2 linked regions of the Homo sapiens genome follow. The protein of the gene in region 1 interacts with the protein of each later gene in a biochemical or structural test. Each region holds a gene or a part of one and is shown on either strand. Other genes may lie near its edges. The genes, in order: FGF6 and FGFR2.

What was found.
Region 2: the proteins of FGF6 (region 1) and FGFR2 interact in a test that uses a peptide from one of them, tested with the Homo sapiens proteins (one study listed by BioGRID).

Annotation. Positions count from the first base shown.
Region 1 is NC_000012.12:4,443,507-4,447,420, reverse strand, and holds the start of FGF6 (fibroblast growth factor 6 precursor), read left to right. Parts: upstream 1-1,605; 5' UTR 1,606-1,850; coding exon 1,851-2,196; intron 2,197-3,184; coding exon 3,185-3,288; intron 3,289-3,914. UniProt on the Homo sapiens protein: Plays an important role in the regulation of cell proliferation, cell differentiation, angiogenesis and myogenesis, and is required for normal muscle regeneration.
Region 2 is NC_000010.11:121,588,244-121,592,057, forward strand, and holds part of FGFR2 (fibroblast growth factor receptor 2 isoform 1 precursor), read right to left. Parts: intron 1-3,814. UniProt on the Homo sapiens protein: Tyrosine-protein kinase that acts as a cell-surface receptor for fibroblast growth factors and plays an essential role in the regulation of cell proliferation, differentiation, migration and apoptosis, and in the regulation of embryonic development.

The sequences.
Region 1 (3,914 bases):
TTTGAACCAAAGCATCGAACCCAGTGAACGAGGCAGAAGGGCAGAGAGAAGGCAGGTAGAAGCCACAGACCAGAGGCTGGGACCCAGGGCACAGCAGAAGGTTTAGAATCAGAGGGAAGGCGGTGGTGCCTCAGTAGAGTCCTTGGGCCATGGAACTCACCCCAGGAGCTTTTCCAGGCTGCCTGCAGCCTGCAATGTGGGTGTAGAGTGTGGCTAAGGGAGCTGCCTGCTGGGACCAGCTCTACTGCTCAGGACACTCAAATCCATCTGTATGCCACTGTCATCACCCCACACATACTCTCTCCAATCCCGGCAAAATCAGTGCTAATGTCTCACCAACAGATTAAGGCCTGGATTGAAGTACAAGAAACAGGATTTTTAACTCAAGTTAATTCAATTCCCCAGCGACCCTTGTTAACTTATTCACCCTCAGAGACGTATTAATAGTTCTGTCTTATATTGTATAGAAATTTGTGCAGTGAGTTTTCTGGTAGCTTTACATTTTTTTTCTCACTTCAGTTAGACATGTAATCTATTTAAAAGTAATATGGGAATAAGATAAATCAGTGTAGGAATAACTTCCTGGCAGAAATATTTTTACTAGTTTCTGAGTGTAATATCAGCCCAGCAAAAGTTATCTGCAAATATAGAAGTTCTCATGTACATCAAAGACACTCAAGTTTTTTTTAAGAAATAAATCATTTTATGCTACTGAAATAACTCTGTGATGTGCTATTGGCATTTAAGGAGCTAAACAGACTCTATGGGCCAGCCAACTTCTACTGCAAGCATTAGACATGCACAGGCTTTAGACTCAGGCACACCTTAGAAGTTCTGGCTTTGCTACTTATTAGCTATGGTAACTCGGGCAGGTCATTTATCCTCTCTAAGCCTCAACTTCCTCATCTGTGAAATGGGAATAATATCAGTCACATGCCAGGGATAAATCCAGGGAGAATGGCCAGGGGGCTGTGTCAAAGGCCAGACACAACTTCCACCCCAGGTGAATGTCGGGACCAGGACAGTGAGCAGGCAAACCTTGCCCTTGCCCTCCTTCCCTCCACAATCTTAAAGCTCCTTGAACAACCCCCATCCCCACCCCCTGAGAATGTCTGTGCCCTCCTGCTGAAAGGGTTTGGCCTTTCAGTGTTCCCCTCCACCATGAGCTGTTTCCATGAAAAGATCTCAAGGGTGACTTGAGGCTACGGTCATCACTACCACAAGCCTTTTCCCATCCCTGCCTCTACCTATTGCCCTCTAAATAAGGAAGCCAGCGCTGCCAGGCAAAGAACTTCTGCCCAATATGGGTCCTGGGTGGCCTCTCGCCTCTCTCTTTCCCTGGGCCCCCAGCCAGCTCCCCCCTCCCCCAGAGATGCTCCCTGCTCACTTCATTCCTGCCTCATAGTTGGAATGACAGTGGCTCCCAGAACCCCTGGGGAGTGTGGAGGGTGATGGGGGTCTGGGGAGGCAGCCAGGCCCAAGAGCAGGTTAATGTTACAGCCCTGGATAAGTGAGCTGGGCGGGTTGACGTCAGGGCGATGATGGGTGGAGGGGAGGGCCGGGCTGCTGAAGCAACTATAAAGATAGGTCAAATCAAATATCATCAACTAGGGACGGAGCAAGCGGGCGAGCTAGAGAGCGTCCCCGAGCCATGGTCTCTACCGGCCGCGGCTCAGCCTGGGTCCCTCTGCTCTCAACCCGAGTGCCCGATGGAGGCTTTGGTTTCATGTCAGCAGCCTTCATCTGCCTTCCAAAAATAAGCCCCTGCCGCCATGCCGGAGGGAGAAAAACAAGAAGGGCGGTATTTTTAGGGCCATTAATTCTGACCACGTGCCTGAGAGGCAAGGTGGATGGCCCTGGGACAGAAACTGTTCATCACTATGTCCCGGGGAGCAGGACGTCTGCAGGGCACGCTGTGGGCTCTCGTCTTCCTAGGCATCCTAGTGGGCATGGTGGTGCCCTCGCCTGCAGGCACCCGTGCCAACAACACGCTGCTGGACTCGAGGGGCTGGGGCACCCTGCTGTCCAGGTCTCGCGCCGGGCTAGCTGGAGAGATTGCCGGGGTGAACTGGGAAAGTGGCTATTTGGTGGGGATCAAGCGGCAGCGGAGGCTCTACTGCAACGTGGGCATCGGCTTTCACCTCCAGGTGCTCCCCGACGGCCGGATCAGCGGGACCCACGAGGAGAACCCCTACAGTGAGTGCCAGCTGCAGCCAGTCGGGACGCTTGGGGGTTTGGGCTCATGCAGGGCTAAAAGGTGAAGGGGCCCTGCTCTAGCGGACAGGATGCACGATAAAGGGGGCAGAAATGCTGCTCACCACTTAGATGATTCCACGTGACCCTGCCTGGGTGCAAGCTCAATATACTGCGGTCCAAGCATCCTGGTGTTCTTTGCCATCGCCTTGGTTAGATCCTCAGTGGCACTAACTATTTCAGCATTACTGGCCCATCTGATGCCTTGTAAGACCATTAGGAACCATTAGTCTGGGAAGCCCCCAAGGCCTGGGTAGGGAGAATCAGTTAGTATACTTGGATCAAATTTGACACAAGCTCATTTTTATTCAGCTTCTTTCTTGGAGAAGGAAGGGAAATTCAATTGCAAAATGTCCAACTGAAGCACATCCTTCTTTTTATTTCAGCGGCTCCCTCTGTCCCCAGGTTCTTATCCTGCAAGCTGCCTGCAAGCTGCCAGCTTGCTGTATGGTTAGTCTCCTATCCAAGAAAGGATGGGGGCTGCAGGATCCAAGAAAGCCATCAGCTATGGTGTGGCTGCTGTGTTTTCAAGATTAAGTGGGTTGAGATTTGTTGAAACATGTAGAGTACACATTAAGAAGAAGAAGAAGAATCAGAATTTATTTTTTTACTCAAGTCAAGGACCTCAAGTAATTATGTCACTGAAAGCCCAGATTCAAAGCTCATCTTAAACAGATAGCTAAGTGGTCACTGCAGCCCCTAACTCTGCTATCAGAACCTTCCCTTGCAGAACTGGATTTCTAACAGCACAATGGCAGCACTCGATGAGTCCAGCAGCCAGGGTCTCCTAGAGTTAGAGGGATCATGGATGGGGCAATGGAGAGTCTGGCTTTCTAGGAGAAGGGGGATGGACTGAGATGCCCTTGTCGGCTCAAGTTCCCACTCTGATTTGCACAAGCCTTAGGTAATGTGGCCCCCCTTTCCTTGTCAGGCCTGCTGGAAATTTCCACTGTGGAGCGAGGCGTGGTGAGTCTCTTTGGAGTGAGAAGTGCCCTCTTCGTTGCCATGAACAGTAAAGGAAGATTGTACGCAACGGTGAGTTCACCAGGCCGGGGAAGTGCCAGGTTTACAAGGCTTGATGCTTACACAGTTGAAGAAAATAATATGAAGTCCTGAGTAGAGAAGTGACTATCTAAATGGGAAAGGAAAGGCTGTGAGAGGAGCCTGTGAAAGGGAGGGGCCTTGCAGCTTGTGCTTCTTCAGCCTCACGGGTGATTGTCCTCTGCCCTGGCCCGTGCTTCTTCTGTTCCCACCTGCCGGCCGGAGCCCGTGTGCTTAAACGGAAACCACAGCTCAGGGAGCCCGTGGGCCAGAGGGAAACCCACATTCTGGCATCCAGGCTTGTGAGCAGGTGTGATTCCCTGCACTGGCGAGGCCCCGAGAGCAAGTCTGTCTCTCTGCCTGGGTGCGCTGCTCCATGACACGCGCCCTGCAAGATGCCCCAGCCTCGTGCGCAGCAGGAGGAGTGGAATGGGAGGCTATTTTCATCCTCATCAGTGTGCTGAGATTCTGCACTAGGGTTTTCAATCCTCTGGTCTCCGATCACGTACGCTAGAGAAGCAGCCTACCCGTTATACACTTTAGGCTGGTACCAGTCCCACCCATTCCCATCCCCACCCCCATAGGTCACCTCTGGGAGTGCCAATGCTGGCACTTGGGTT
Region 2 (3,814 bases), on another chromosome or scaffold:
GTGGAGGGTGGGTGGGAGGAGAGAGAGGAGCAGAAAAAATAGCTATTGGGTACTGGGCTTAATACCTGGGTGATGAAACAATCTGTACAACGAACCCCCATGACACGAGTTTACCTACATAACAAACCTTCACATGTACCCCCAAACCTAAAATAAAAGCTAAATTTAAAAAAAAAAAGAACTTGGCCTCAAGTTCTTGACCAAACTACACTAAGAAGGCAAGTCAGGGAGGAAGATGGTGTGGTAAAGATGGGGTATGATTAGCAACACCAAGCATTTCAATGCTAGGAAAGCTAAAAAAAGTAGAGCCATCTCTAAATCTCATGGGATACAGCAAAAATCTCTAAATCATATGGGATACAGCAAAAAGATGGAAAAAAATGCAAAACTTAAGGCTAGGACAGGTGTGGTGGCTCACACTTGTAATCCCAGCACTTTGGGAGGCCAAGGCTGCCAGGAGTTGGAGACCAGCCTGAGCAACATGGCGAAACCCCATATCTACGAAATATTTTTAAAAATTATCCAGGCCTGTAGTCCCAGCTACTCAGGAGGTTGGAGGACCCCTTCAGCCCAGGAGTCCGAGGGTACAGTGAGCCACGTTTGACAATGCAGTGAGGGTACAATTGCACCATTGTACTCCAGCCTGGGTGGCAGATCAAGACTCTGTCTCAAAAAACAAAAACAAACAAAAAACCAAAGGCTAAAATCATCTCTCAAGGAAAAAAAAATAGAGACCATAAGCATTTTGCACAGTTGCATAAAACCTACTGGATCAGAATTATCTGTGGAATAGCCTAAAAAACTTCCAAAAAATAATTTCTGAACTGCCTACAGAGATGTCCCCCTGGCGAGAATCGGACCAGTACAGTGGAGAGTAGCACACCAGCTATATTTCCTACCTAGCTTAACAGCCAGGCACCCAAAAATCAATTTCCCATGTTTTCCTTTAATGACTAAAATTCGCTTCCATGGAAATGTAAGGGTAAGCTAGATTAGAGGGAGTTTTTAACAATTACCCTGGCTAAACAAACACCTAAACAACAGTCTGCAAACTGGAAGACTAGTGGATACATTTTATTGAAACTACGAACATTAAACAAAACACTTCCAGTTTAAACACGACCCCAGTTATTTCATAGCCATGTAATTATTTGTTAAGTCTGATATTAAAAACATCTCATATTGGATTGCTGTGGTTTTGTGAATTCTCACCCTCAACTGGGTCAGAAAGACTTGAAAGGAATAAAGTCTTTACTTATGGCTTGATGCGGGGCCATTGGCATAGTAAGTGCTCTGTCTTTTAACTGGTTGAAATAAACAGACAAAACAGAAACACACACATATACCCCAAATTTGAATCAGAGAGAGCCAGTATAAAATGATACAAGTACCAGTTCTCTGGGCTTGCCAGATTTCTGCTCTATAAGTAATATTAAACATGGCTCTTGGTCTATGAATTGTGAAACACTTTATATACTAATAAAGAATGTGTACTTCATTGTGTATTTAACTGCGTAAGCCTGTATTTGGTTTAATTGACCAAGAATAAGTCCTTGTTCCAAAGCTAACTATCAAGTTACAGTCAACTCTTAAATATTAACACTCATATTGAAAAACAAAGATGCAGATAATACGAAACAGAAGATTATTTTAAATCATTCACTCTTGGTATGCGGATATATTCTTTCTTCCTTTCTTTTAACTTGCAATTAAATGCGTATGGTTAATATTATGGCATTTACAATACTTCTAACAAAGGACTTAAACCATACTGGAAAAATCTGACTTAGGGAGGTCTCTGTGTAGATCCTGTCCTCGACGTTTCTGCTACTGAACTCTGGACCAACTCACGTTGGTCCAGGAGAGCATCACCTCTCAGAAGATTGACAAAAAATTGCTACACAAACTACATTTTTTTTCAGGTTGTTACTTTTCAGAGTCACACTCTGTGGAGGGTGGGAAAGTAATTAAGGGTGTAGGGTTGAAAAGCCCTTTCATTTTAGCTCCTACTGGGTTGGTGTAAACAAAGATGCCATTAATGTCAACAATGACTTAATTAACCAGAGTAGGTGACAATGTCAGGAAGAACTTGAAAGTAAGAGTTGCCCCCTCTCAGGGTAATCAAGCTTGACTAGACTTCAAATATTTATAATGTTAATCAACAGAATAGTACTTGGCATTGAGGACTGCCCCCCTTCGAGTCAATAACCATGTTTTCACTCCTCTGCTGGTGCCCTATAACAATGAATGACCAAAAGGAAATTAACAATGAATGACCAACTGGAAAACTCATATTTAATCTGAAATATTAAAAACTAAAATCTTCTAGAGATTATTTTCTTAAGTCAATTGAGTGGGCCCAACCCCACTGCTACTATTTCAGAACGTGTCCAGAAGACAAATGATATATATGATATATGATATGACATATGATATGATACGATATTGCACAAAGCCAAGATGACTAAACATAACCTTTCCCTGAGGGGCCAAAAGAAAAGGACCCTCTAGTGTTAGGGCCCAGGCTTCTTCCTGGAACTTCTCAGTCACATTTTTCTCCTATCCAATAGACATTATCTAAACTGAGCTTCCAAATAAATTAGCAAACCAAAAAGTCTTACAAGATAAGACCTTGGTGCACAGAAGGTCAAGGTGGAACTTACTGCTAACCAAAGCTATAGTAGTTCTAATCATGGAGAACTGATGGACAGGGGCACAGGCACGCACGCACGCACGCGCACTCGCGCACACACACACACACACGCACACTCTCTCTCTCTCTCTCTCTCTTCCAATTCACCAGCACAGAGCCTAAACCTGAGCCCATTTTCAGCTGTTAAAAACTCCTTTCTCATCTATAATTCAATGACCTTCCTAATCACCTCTGACACCAAAGCGAACTCCTGCAACAGAAGAACTGGTCTTAGGGCTCAAATCAGTGGCCAGTATTAGACTAACAGATGAGGGGAAGTGGGGACCCTACAGAAAGCAAACACAGCTTCCTGGAAACACCAAGGGCCTCCTCCATCCAAAAACAACTTTCTTCTCAACTGTCTCCAAAAGCCTAGATGTTTTTTGACATTGTGGCACCTGGCACAGCCAGCCCACGGGACTGGGAAGACCCATGTTCCCAGCTCCCTGGCGACAACGGCGACAAGGCCATGCACCCGGTGCTTACTGGATGCCAGCCCCTGTGCTAATTGCTCTTTATGTCCAGGTCAAATGGAAATCTCCTAACAACCTTTTGGTGGAAGAGTCAGAAGACTTCTGAGGACATTAATATTCAATGACTATTAATGAAGAGACCCTAAAGATCATCTTCTTAAGCCCTCAGACGACAGAAAGGGAAACTGAGGCCTGGGACTTGTATACTTTTCCAAAGCCTCTTCTTTGCCAGGTTTTGCACCTTCCTCTAAGACATCTTTTCTTTTCCATCTCATAATTCTGGATGCAAATGAACTCATAGCTCATGGAAACTATAAACCCATAAAAATGCACAAAAGGACATTAACAAAATATTACCTAAAATTTCCAGAACTTCATCGACCTCCTTCCTGATCCATAAGTGCATCCACAGATCCCAGGTTGAGCAGGCCTGCTTCCAACAATACCCACATTGTTGGATGTAAATTCTTACACAAAGACTCACTCGGGGAACTTCGTCCCTTTCCACGATTTCTTCCCTCTGCCTCACCTGTCCCTCCCTGCATGTATACACAATTTTAAACTTCCTTCAAGAATTAAATACAGTAAAACAAATCCTCTGGGACCATTTTACACTTTATGTTGAAATAAACTCACAATAACGCTGCCC